3 linked regions of the Homo sapiens genome follow. The protein of the gene in region 1 interacts with the protein of each later gene in a pairwise test. Each region holds a gene or a part of one and is shown in the gene's direction. Other genes may lie near its edges. The genes, in order: MAP2K1, PDGFRL and BTRC.

Region 1 (3,600 bases):
TGGGTATTGTGCCTCTTATTAAGCTCTTTATTCACATCTTATTTCTTTAGTAATTCACAGAATTGGAATTTTTGGATTAAAGTTCTTTTTTTTTTTGAGACGGGGTCTCACTCTGTCGCCCAGGCTGGAGTGCAGTGGTGTGATCTTGGATCACTGCAACCTCCGCCTCCCGAGTTCAAGCAATTCTCTGCCTCAGCCCCCCAAGTAGTTGGGATTACAGGCACCCGCCACCACGCCCAGCTAATTTTTTGTATTTTTAGTAGAGATGGGTTTCACCATCTTGGCCAGGCTGGTCTTGAACTCCTGACCTCGTGATCCACCCGTCTCGGCCTCCCAAAGTTCTGGAATTACAGGCGTGAGCCACCGCGCCTGGCCTGGATGAAAGTTTTTTTAAAGGGAGTCTTGCTCTGTAGCCCTGGCTGGTGTGCAGTGGTGTGATCATAGCTCACTGCAGCCTCAAACTCCTGGGCTCAAGTGATCCTCCAGCCTCAGCCTCCTCAGTAGCTTGGACGACAGCTGCACACAACCATGCCCAGCTAATAGAGACGGGGGACTCACTATGTTGCCCAGGCTAGTCTCGAACTCCTGGGCTCAAGTGATCCTCTTGCCTGGGCCTCCCAAAATTGGGATTACAGGCGTGAGCCACCGCTCCTGGCCCGAAAGAGTGTTTTTAAGGCTTTAAAAAAATATTGCCAACATGGTGAAAACCCGTTTCTACAAAAATACAAAAAGGATCCGGGCATGACGGCGAGTGCCTGTAATCCCAGCTACTCAGGAGACTGAGGCAGGAGAATCGCTTGAACGTGGGAGGCAGAGGTGGTAGTTAGCGGAGATCGCGCCACTACACTCCAGGCTGGGCAACTGAGGGAGACACCGTCTTAAAAAAAAAAAAGTTCCCAAGTCTAAAAAAAAAAAAATCATCAATCTGCTCTCAAAAACTGTCGCAACAATTTACAATCTCATCAGCACTGAGTATCCATTTCCTTGCACCCTTCTCAGTAGTATTACCATTAAACAAACAAAATTTATATGCGTCAGTTTGTTGGGCTCAAAGGAGCCTCTCGACAAGTTTCCTATTCCCCACGCTGCCTCTCCTCTGGACACAGGAAGGGGTCCTTTTCCTTATTTATTTTGTTATTTCATTTTCGTCAACACGGCTCGGCTTGGGGACAGGGGTCGGGGGCAGGCCGGTTACCGCAGAGGTGGAGGCCGCGCGGCACCTGGCCTGGAGAGCTCACCACACAGCGACACAGACTTCTTCTCAGCTGGGTCCACCTGCTTGCCTCGGGGCGACAGAGGGCGCCACGGCGTCCGCGACGGACCCCGCCCCCAGGCAGTGCGCCGCGCTCCCGTGACGTATTTCCGCGTCATCTGCCGCCGAGGCTTGCCCCCATTGGTTGTCTGCGAGGCAATAGGGGCGGAGCCGAGTGGGAGTGTGGAAAGCGCCGCATCCCGGGTGGGAGGCGAGGCTTCCCCTTCCCCGCCCCTCCCCCGGCCTCCAGTCCCTCCCAGGGCCGCTTCGCAGAGCGGCTAGGAGCACGGCGGCGGCGGCACTTTCCCCGGCAGGAGCTGGAGCTGGGCTCTGGTGCGCGCGCGGCTGTGCCGCCCGAGCCGGAGGGACTGGTTGGTTGAGAGAGAGAGAGGAAGGGAATCCCGGGCTGCCGAACCGCACGTTCAGCCCGCTCCGCTCCTGCAGGGCAGCCTTTCGGCTCTCTGCGCGCGAAGCCGAGTCCCGGGCGGGTGGGGCGGGGGTCCACTGAGACCGCTACCGGCCCCTCGGCGCTGACGGGACCGCGCGGGGCGCACCCGCTGAAGGCAGCCCCGGGGCCCGCGGCCCGGACTTGGTCCTGCGCAGCGGGCGCGGGGCAGCGCAGCGGGAGGAAGCGAGAGGTGCTGCCCTCCCCCCGGAGTTGGAAGCGCGTTACCCGGGTCCAAAATGCCCAAGAAGAAGCCGACGCCCATCCAGCTGAACCCGGCCCCCGACGGCTCTGCAGTTAACGGGACCAGCTCTGCGGAGTAAGTATGGGGCGGGCGGTGAACCTCGGGGCCCGGCTGGGGAGGCCCGAGCCGGGGAGCAGGAGCGCGCGCCAGGCTCCGATCTGGTTTGTCACGTACGTCTGGGGCTGGCAGGGGGCGAGAAACTCCCGGCCGCCGAGGTATCGGTGACTAAGCACTGATTGTGTTCCTGACTCAGACCAGTTAGCGGATCCCGCGGGTCTCCATTCCTCTCTGTACCCCTTTTCCCGACCGTTTTAGTGGTTCCTGGCCACTGTACAGTCTTCTCCCAAGAAAATAAAAGCTAGCACGTCTCCCCTGCCTCCTCCCAGTTCTGTTCTAAATGTGATCATCTGGGAGTCTGGCCTGTAACGGGGAGAGGAGGCTAATGTTTTGGAAAGAATTAAGATCGCATCTGTGCTTTTGAGACCAGCTCAGGGTATTAAGTGTGGAGCATCATCCTCACCTTCATGCCTGACACCTGTGGGGCCTGAGTGCCTTGTTGCAGGCCAACTGCCTGGCCAGCGGGGGCGTGCTGGAAGTCCGTGTGGACTTCGTGGCTTTTCCTTGCTGACTTTGGAGGTTCCTGGTACTTGGCCTTCCTGGGAAATTGCTCAAGAAAGCGGCTTTCTTCTTCATCCTACTCTTCATTCATTCATTGAACAAACCATTTTCTCACTAATGATTTCCTAGCTTTCCGTACTTCACCAGGAGCCCCTAAACTCCTGACCTGAGGCATGAACACCATGACCTAGAAACCACATGCTAGGTGCTCCATCTCTGCAGCTTCCAGCGTTGCTTACAAACGAGCACTTTATTTCATTAAATAATCATGAGTCTGTTTCCTGGGGGTTTCTGAGCTCCCACAACTCTCTTGGGTTCTAGGTAAGGGACAAGACTATGTGAGGGAAAGCTGCTTAGCTAGCTAGAGAAATAGCCAGAAAAGATTAGGTTATTATTATTTTTTTGCCTTTTTTTGGTTGTTGTTTGCCCAACCTTCAATAAGGATTGGGTTCTTAATCTTTTACCTGCACACTGCAGACTTTAGGAAGCTAATTGATGAAATCAGAATAGGCTTGGACCTTATGCTCTTTGGTGATTTCTGTAACCTCCCTTCCTTTCTCTAGATTTTTAGAAAATTTTATTTTTTAAACTTTTATACAGATGGGGTCTTGCTATATTGCTTAGGCTGGTCTTGAACTCCTGGACTCTAGCGATCCTCCCAAAGTGCTGGGATTACAGGCATGAGCCACTATGCCCAGCCAACTTTCTCTAGATTTTAATAACCCGGGGACCTGTTGGCTTGATGACTTGTTCCATCCCTGTAATGATCACAAGGTCGATGGTGGACCTGTGGTGTGTGTTCAGCTGTGTTTTTCAGACCTGCTCCCAACAGACTCTCTTCTTTAGTCCCCTCTCAATCCTGTGGGGTCTATTTTGCATAATACTGACTTGTATAGGTAGTTGGATTGCATTATTGCATTGCAAACATTTGTTCTTTTTTTTTTTTTTTTTTTGAGTCGGAGTTTCACTCTTGTTGCCCAGGCTGGAGTGCAATGGTGCGATCTTGGCTAACTGCAGCCTCTGCCTCCCGGGTTCAAGCGA
Region 2 (3,728 bases), on another chromosome or scaffold:
TGCAGAAGTTTTTTAGTTTAATTAAGCCCGATCTATCTTTGTTTTTGTTGCATTTGCTTTTTGGTTCTTGGTCATGAACTCTTTGCCTAAGCCAATGTCTAGAAAGGTTTTTCCACTGTTATCTTCTAGAATTTTTATGGTTTCAGGTCTTAGATTTAAGTATTTGATCCACCTTGAGTTGATTTTTGTATAAGGTGAAAGATAAGGATTCAGTCTTATTCATCATCTACATTTGGCTTGCCAATTATCCCAGCACCATTTGGTGAATAGGGTGTCCTTTCCCCATTTTATGCTTTTGTTTGCTTTGTCAAAGATCAGTGTAAGTATTTGGGTTTATTTCTGGGTTCTCTATTCTGTTCCACTGGTCTATGTGCTATTTTTATACCAGTACCATGCTGTTTTGGTGACTATGGCCTTATAGTATAGTTTGAAGTCAGGTAATGGGATGCCTCTAGATTTGTTTTTTTTTTTTGCTTAGTCTTGTTTTGGCTCTGCAGATTCTTTTTTGGTTCCACATGAATTTTAGGATTGTTTTTTCTAGTTCTGTGAAGAATGATGGTGGTGTTTTGGTGGGAATTGCATTGAATCTGTGGATTGCTTTTCGCAGTATGGTCATTTTCACAATATTGATTCTACCCATCCATGAGCATGCGATGTGTTTCCATTTGTTTGTGTCATCTATGATTTCTTTCAGCAGTGTTTTGTAGTTTTCCTTGCAGAGGTCTTTCACCTCCTTGATTAGGTATATTTCTGAGTATATATATTTTTTGCAGCTATTATAAAAGGGGTTGAGTTATTGATTTGATTCTCAGCTTGGTTGCTGTTGGTTTATAGCAGAGCTACTGATTTGTTTACATTAATTTTGTATCCTGAAACTTTGCTAAATTCATCTATCAGTTCTAGCAGCTTTTTGGAGGAGTCTTTAGGGTTTTCTAGGTATATGATTACATCATCAGCAAACAGCGACAGTTTGACTTCGCTTTATTGATTTGGATGCCCTTTATTTCTTTCTCTTGTCTGATTGCTCTGGCGAGGACTTCCAGTACTATGTTGAATGCAAGTGGGCATCCTTGTCTTGTTGCAGTTCTCAGGGGAAATGCTTTCAACTTTTTCCCATTCAGTATAGACAGTTTTCATTACCTTAAGGTATGTCCCTTCTATGCCAATTTTGCTGAGGGTTTTAATCATAAAGGGATGCTGGATTTTGTCAAATGTTTTTTGTGTGTCTGTTGAGATGATCATGTGATTTTTTGTTTTTAATTCTATGTGGTGTATCCCATTAATGTCTTGTGTATGTTAAACCACCCCAGTATGAAACCCATTTGATCATGGTGGACTATCTATTTGATATGCTGTTGGATTTGGTTAGCTAGTATTTTGTTAAGGATTTTTGCATCTATATTCATCAAACATGTTGGTCTATAGTTTTCTCTTTTTTGTTATGTCCTTTCCTGGTTTTGGTATTAGGGTGATACTGGCTTCACAGAATGATTTAGGGAGGATTCCTTCTTTCTCTGTCTTGTGAAATAATGTTGATAGGATTGATACCAGTTCTTAGAATGTCTGATAGAATTCATTTGTGAATCCATCTGATTCTGGGCTTATTTTTGTTGGCAGTTTTTTAAATTACCATTTCAATCTCACTGCTTGTTATTGGTCTGTTCAGAGTTTCTCTTTCTTCCTGGTTTAATCTAGGAGGGTGGTATAATTCCAGGAATTTATCCATCTCTTCTAGGTTTTCTAGCTTGAGTATGTAAAGCTGTTCACAGTAGCCTTGAATTATCTTTTGTATTTCTGTGGTATTGGTTGTAATATCTTGTTTCATTTCTAACTGAAGCTTATTTGGATCTTCTTGGTTAATTTTGTTAATAGTCTATCAGTTTTATTTATCTTTTCAAAGAATCAGCTTTTTGTTTATCTTTTGTATTTTTTTGGTTCAATTTCATTCAGTTCTGCTCAGATCTTTATTTCTTTTGTTCTGCTATGTTTGGGTTTGGTTTGTTCTGGTTTTTCCAGTCCTTGAGGTGTGACCTTAGATTGTCTATTTGTGCTCTTTCAGACTTTTTGATGTAGTCATTTAATGCTATGAACTTTCCTCTTAGCACTGCCTTTGCTGTATACCAGAGGTTTTGATAGGTTGTGCTACTATTTTCATTCAGTTCAAATAATTTTTTAACTTCCATCGTGATTTCATTCTTGACCCAGTGATCATTCAGGAGCAGGTTATTTAATTTCCATGTGTTTGTATGTTTTGAGGGTTGCTTTTGGAATTGAGTTCCAATTTTATTCCACCGTGGTCTGAGAGAGTACTTGATATAATTTCAGTTTTCTTAAATTTATTGAAACTTGTTTTGTGGCTTATGATATGGTCTCTCTTGGAGAATGTTCCATGTGCTGATGAATAGAATGTATATTCTGCAGTTGTTGGGTCGAATGTTCTACAAATAGCCCTTAAGTCCATTTGTTCTAGGTTATAGTTTAAATCCATTGTTTCTTTGTTGATGTTCTGTCTTGATTACCTATCTATTGCTGACAGTGGAGTATTGAAGTTCCCCACTATTACTGTGTTGCAGTCTATCTCATTTCTTAGGTGTAACAGTAATTGTTTTATAAATTTGGGAGCTCTGGCATTAGGTGCATATATATATATATATATATATATATATATATATATATATATATATATAATTGTGATATTTTCCTGTTGGGCAAGTCCTTTTATCATTACATAATGTCCGTCTTTCTCTTTTTTAACTGCTGTTTCTTTAACGTTTGTTCTGTCTGATATAAGAACAGCTACTCCTCTATAAGACAGGCCTGCACCTGTAATCCCAGCTACTAAGGAGGCTGAGGCACAAGAATCACTTGAACCTGGGAGGTGGAGGTTGCATTGAGCCAAGATTGAGCCATTGCACTCCAGTCTGGCCGACAGAGTGAGACTCTGTCTCAAACAAAACAAAACAAACAAAAAGAATAGCTACTCCTGCTCACTTTGGTGTCCCTTTGCATGGAATATCTTTTCCCAGCCCTTTACCATAAGTTTATGTTAGTCCTATTTGTTAGGTGAGTCTCTTCAAAACAGCAGATACTTGGTTGGTGACTTCTTACCCATTCTGCCATTCTGAATCTTTTAAATGGAGCATTTAGGCCATTTACATTCAACATTAGTATTCAGATGTGAGGTACTATTCTATTCATCTTGCTATTTGTTGCCCGAATACCTTGGTTTTTATTTATTTATTTATTTATTGTGTTTTTGTTTTATAGGTCCTATGAGATTTATGCTTTAAGAAGGTTCTATTTTGGTGTATTTCAAGGATTTGTTTCAATATTTAGTGCTCCTTTTAGCATTTCTTACAGTGCTGGGTTTGTAGTGGCGAATTTTCTCAGCATTTGTTTGTCTGAAAAAGACTGTATCTCTCCTTCATTTATGAAGCTTAGTTTTGCTGTACACAAAATTCTTAGATGATGATTCTTTTGTTTAAGGAGGCTGAAGGTAGGGCCTCAATTTCTTCTAGCTTGTAGGGTTTCTGCTGAGGAATCTGCTGTTAATCTGACATGTTTTCCTTTATAAGTTATCTGGTGCTTTTGCCTCACAGCTCTTAAGATTCTTTCCTTCATCTTCGCTTTAGATAACCTGATGACTCTGTGCCTAGGTGACGATCTTTTTGCAATGAATTTCTCAGGTGTTCTTTGAGCTTCTTGTATTCAGATGTGTAGCTCTCTAG
Region 3 (3,728 bases), on another chromosome or scaffold:
AACTATTTAAGTCTGTAGAAAACCTCTGATATGTACTTTGTAAACAGAAATAACTTTGAATGTTTTTATCTCAGTTGTAAATGTAGAACAGCAGGCAAAAGAAGTTTTTTTAGTGAGATCATCCTATTTTATAGGATCTTTTCTTCTGAGACCTCAGTACAGATTTGGGTGGTGGAGAACTTTAATTGGGAAGCCCTTCTGGTTTACACTCCCCAAGATCTGTTCTCCACTGTTTTCCTCTGCACCTCCTACAAAATATTCTCTGAAATGCTAACCAAGTTATCTTTTGGTCTGGAATTTTTTTTCATTTTTGCCCAACTGTCATTTAGGTTTTATAGCAGCAGCTACTCTCAAATATAGTTTTTTTAAATCTGAAATTAAACCCATTCTTGAACTTAAACATACATCTCTGTCTTTCTCTTGGGATATTTCCATGCCATTCTGTATTTCCTTCTTCTCTCCTTTCTGCATGCCCAAAATTCTATAACCCAGCACATTCTGACTTAGTGCCTCTCCCCTAGTACATTTAAAGGACATTTCTTTTACCGAACAGCTTTGGAACTACAGCAGTAATAGAAACAGAATGAGAAATGGACCTAATATAGAGATTTGGGGGGGTCTGAATCATAGAGTTTGAGATGCCATCCATAGAACATCCCCTAGTGCTGAAATCCATATAGATAGATGTGAATTGTTTTCTGGAATCCTTTTTATTTTTAATGTCTTGGGGGGTTTGCTGGTTGTTAGCTTTAACTTCCTTATCTAAAGGAAGATGGAAAATACTGTTCATTTCTGTAACCTTATGGAAAAATTATTGACACTCATTTTACCCAAGCCTCTGTTTGAAAAAGAAACTGGACCACACTAGGGACAATGATGTGCCTTCATAGCAGAACAAATGCTGTTCTGTTTTAAAGGACCTTTTGTAAAAAATCATTCGCCACCTTCTGTGTTCTTTTTCTTTGCCTCCTCCCCCTACTGAAAGCTCGGGGATTGGATCATATTGCTGAGAACATTCTGTCATACCTGGATGCCAAATCACTATGTGCTGCTGAACTTGTGTGCAAGGAATGGTACCGAGTGACCTCTGATGGCATGCTGTGGAAGAAGCTTATCGAGAGAATGGTCAGGACAGATTCTCTGTGGAGAGGCCTGGCAGAACGAAGAGGATGGTGAGCCTTTAACTTTTCTTACTCTTATACGGCTTCAGGACCTGGCCATTCACAGTCACTGAAAGATTTTTGGGGAGCCAATGAGACCACTTCTCATTTAATATGGTGATTTTGTTGATTTCTAGCTTAAAATGTAACAGAGAACAAATGTTCATATACTCAGCAGTTTTTCTTCTTACCTGTCACTCACAAAATGACATGATATTGTATTAATACTGCTTTGCAAAAAATAATGGAAAGCTGATCAGCCCTCCTGTTTAAAACATTCTGTTATCTGGGCAGAAGTTGGTATCCTGTGGCTGGGCACAGTGCGTTCACGCCTGCAATCCCAGCACTTTCGGAGGCCAAGGTGGGCAGATCACTCGAGGCCAGGAGTTTGAGACCAGCCTGGCCAACGTGGCGAAACCCCAACTCTACTAAAAATACAAAATTTAGCCGAGTATGGTGGCGTGCACCTGTAATCCCAGCTACTGTAGAGGCTGAGGCAGGAGAATCGCATGAACCCTAGGTTTCTTTCAGAAAATTTCTTGCCTTTATCTTATGCCTCTGGTGTTTTGTCACCTTTGTAATCAAAAATTATTTTTAAGCCCAAGTGGAATAAGAACTCTAGCCATCAGAAAAAGTGAAAATGAAATTAAGTATAAATCATTGTTTCTTCTTAAGACTTCTGTTTTTCAAGATTTTCTGACTTAATTCCGAATTCCCCAAAGCATCATATAGTTAGCAGTCTAAGAGACTTCACTAATTTTTTTGTTGTTCTCTTAACAGTACTATTTCATTAGAACTTCTGAAAGATATCTTTCTTTAAATACTTTTCTCTCAGAGTATGTCTCTAGAATGTCACTATAGGAAAGCTACGTAGTAATAGTTCACAAATAAAGGTGACATATTAAATATTCTCATTGACAGAAAAAATTATAATAGGCATGTGTGTGCTTAGTGATGTCCTTCCAAATTAATTTTATCAGTTGTTTATCTTGGATCATAAAGAGGAAAACAGTTAAAAGTAGAGAACACTTTTAAAAGATAAATATTCATGGGCCAGCTTTCCTTTGAATTTTCATGAAAAAGTAGTTGGCTCTCTTTCTTTTTTTCTATCTTTGAAATTTATTAACACATAATAAATACAATGACCTATAAATATTATACCAAATGCCTCAGATTTTTATCATTCTGGCTATTAGGAAGACTGTTTAAATTTTTCTCTCAAATTGAATTAAAGGAACAAAAAAACTAGGCAATTTTTAGGCTGTGTAACAAAGAATATTGTTGGCCGGGTGGGGTGGCTCACGCCTGTAATCCCAACAGTTTTGGAGGCCAAGGCAAGAGGATCGTTTGAGCCCAGGAGTTTGATACCAGGCTGGGCAACATATTGAGACCTCATCTCTACAAAAAAATCAAAAAATTAGCTGGGCCTGGTGGCGCATGCCTGTAATCCCAGCCACTCAGGAGGCTAAGGTGGGAGGATGGCTTGAGTCTGGGAAGTTGAGGCTGCAGTGAGCTGTGGTCATGCCACTGCACTCCAGCCTGGGCAACAGAGCAAGACCCTGTCTCTTTCTCTGTCTCTCTCTCTCTCTCTCTCTCTCTCTCTCACATACACACACACACACACACACACACAAAAGAATATTATTACTACTTCTCAAATATGTTTTTTAATTCTTATTTCGCTACATAGAAAAATAGAAATCTTTCATAACCTACTTCATACTTTGGAAATAAACTCTTTAATAGTACAACAAAGCAAATAAAAATGGAGTTATATGGTATTCGGGGTCCATCATTTTGCTAAGAGTGCTGGGACCAGCCTTGGGGATACAGCAGGCAGTTGCTTACATGAGAAAATTTTAGGGCAGCTGAGAAGATTTCTGTATCCCTCAGAAAAAAAGAATCTCGTCTCCAAATAACTCCTGAAATTTCAGTTAAGGAGATTCATTCCTTTAGCTATAAAGGTTCTGTTACCTGTTAAAATACATTGTGTTCCCATTTGGACTGTAAATGACAGTAAACCTTCATCATAAATTGGGAGTTTACTGAGTCCTTTTTTGAAGGCAGAAAGATCAAGAAGTAAGTGGGCAGTTCTTGGCAGATGGATGTGAAAATGCCAAAGGTAAAAGGCTCCACAGTTTTGCTTGGGATTGGCACTAAATGGCAAGATCTTTTATGTTAGTTACAAAGAAAAAACAATCATTGAGAAGATGGCTTTTGAGCCTTTCTAAAGGGTAGGTGAAGTAATCCAGGATCCAGCACTAATTACCACTTTTTTCCCCTATCTCTTTATCCACAGAAACCCATTCCCGCTCTTTTGAGTATCCTTCAGAGTTCTGACTATATCCCCTTGTCTTTGGGCATGTTTATCCTCTTAATCCCATGATAAACCCATGAAATTCCAAATACTTATACATCCCGTGTCAACTTCCTCCATTATTCCCTCGACTTTCTTGTTGCTGCTTCTGTTTTTACATGTTGACTTTATTCCTGTGTCAGTTTTCTTCCCTTTTTTAAAAAAAAATTTACTCCATCAGTTTCTCATTTTCTTCTTTCAAGTTGTCTTAC

What was found.
Region 2: the proteins of MAP2K1 (region 1) and PDGFRL interact in a two-hybrid assay, tested with the Homo sapiens proteins (one large-scale study listed by BioGRID and IntAct).
Region 3: the proteins of MAP2K1 (region 1) and BTRC interact in binary tests that used the Homo sapiens proteins (3 or more experiments, as listed by UniProt).

What each region holds. Positions count from the first base shown.
Region 1 is NC_000015.10:66,385,412-66,389,011, forward strand, and holds the start of MAP2K1 (dual specificity mitogen-activated protein kinase kinase 1), read left to right. Parts: upstream 1-1,500; 5' UTR 1,501-1,936; coding exon 1,937-2,016; intron 2,017-3,600. UniProt on the Homo sapiens protein: Dual specificity protein kinase which acts as an essential component of the MAP kinase signal transduction pathway.
Region 2 is NC_000008.11:17,636,101-17,639,828, forward strand, and holds part of PDGFRL (platelet-derived growth factor receptor-like protein precursor), read left to right. Parts: intron 1-3,728.
Region 3 is NC_000010.11:101,525,028-101,528,755, forward strand, and holds part of BTRC (F-box/WD repeat-containing protein 1A), read left to right. Parts: intron 1-985; coding exon 986-1,172; intron 1,173-3,728. UniProt on the Homo sapiens protein: Substrate recognition component of a SCF (SKP1-CUL1-F-box protein) E3 ubiquitin-protein ligase complex which mediates the ubiquitination and subsequent proteasomal degradation of target proteins. Recognizes and binds to phosphorylated target proteins.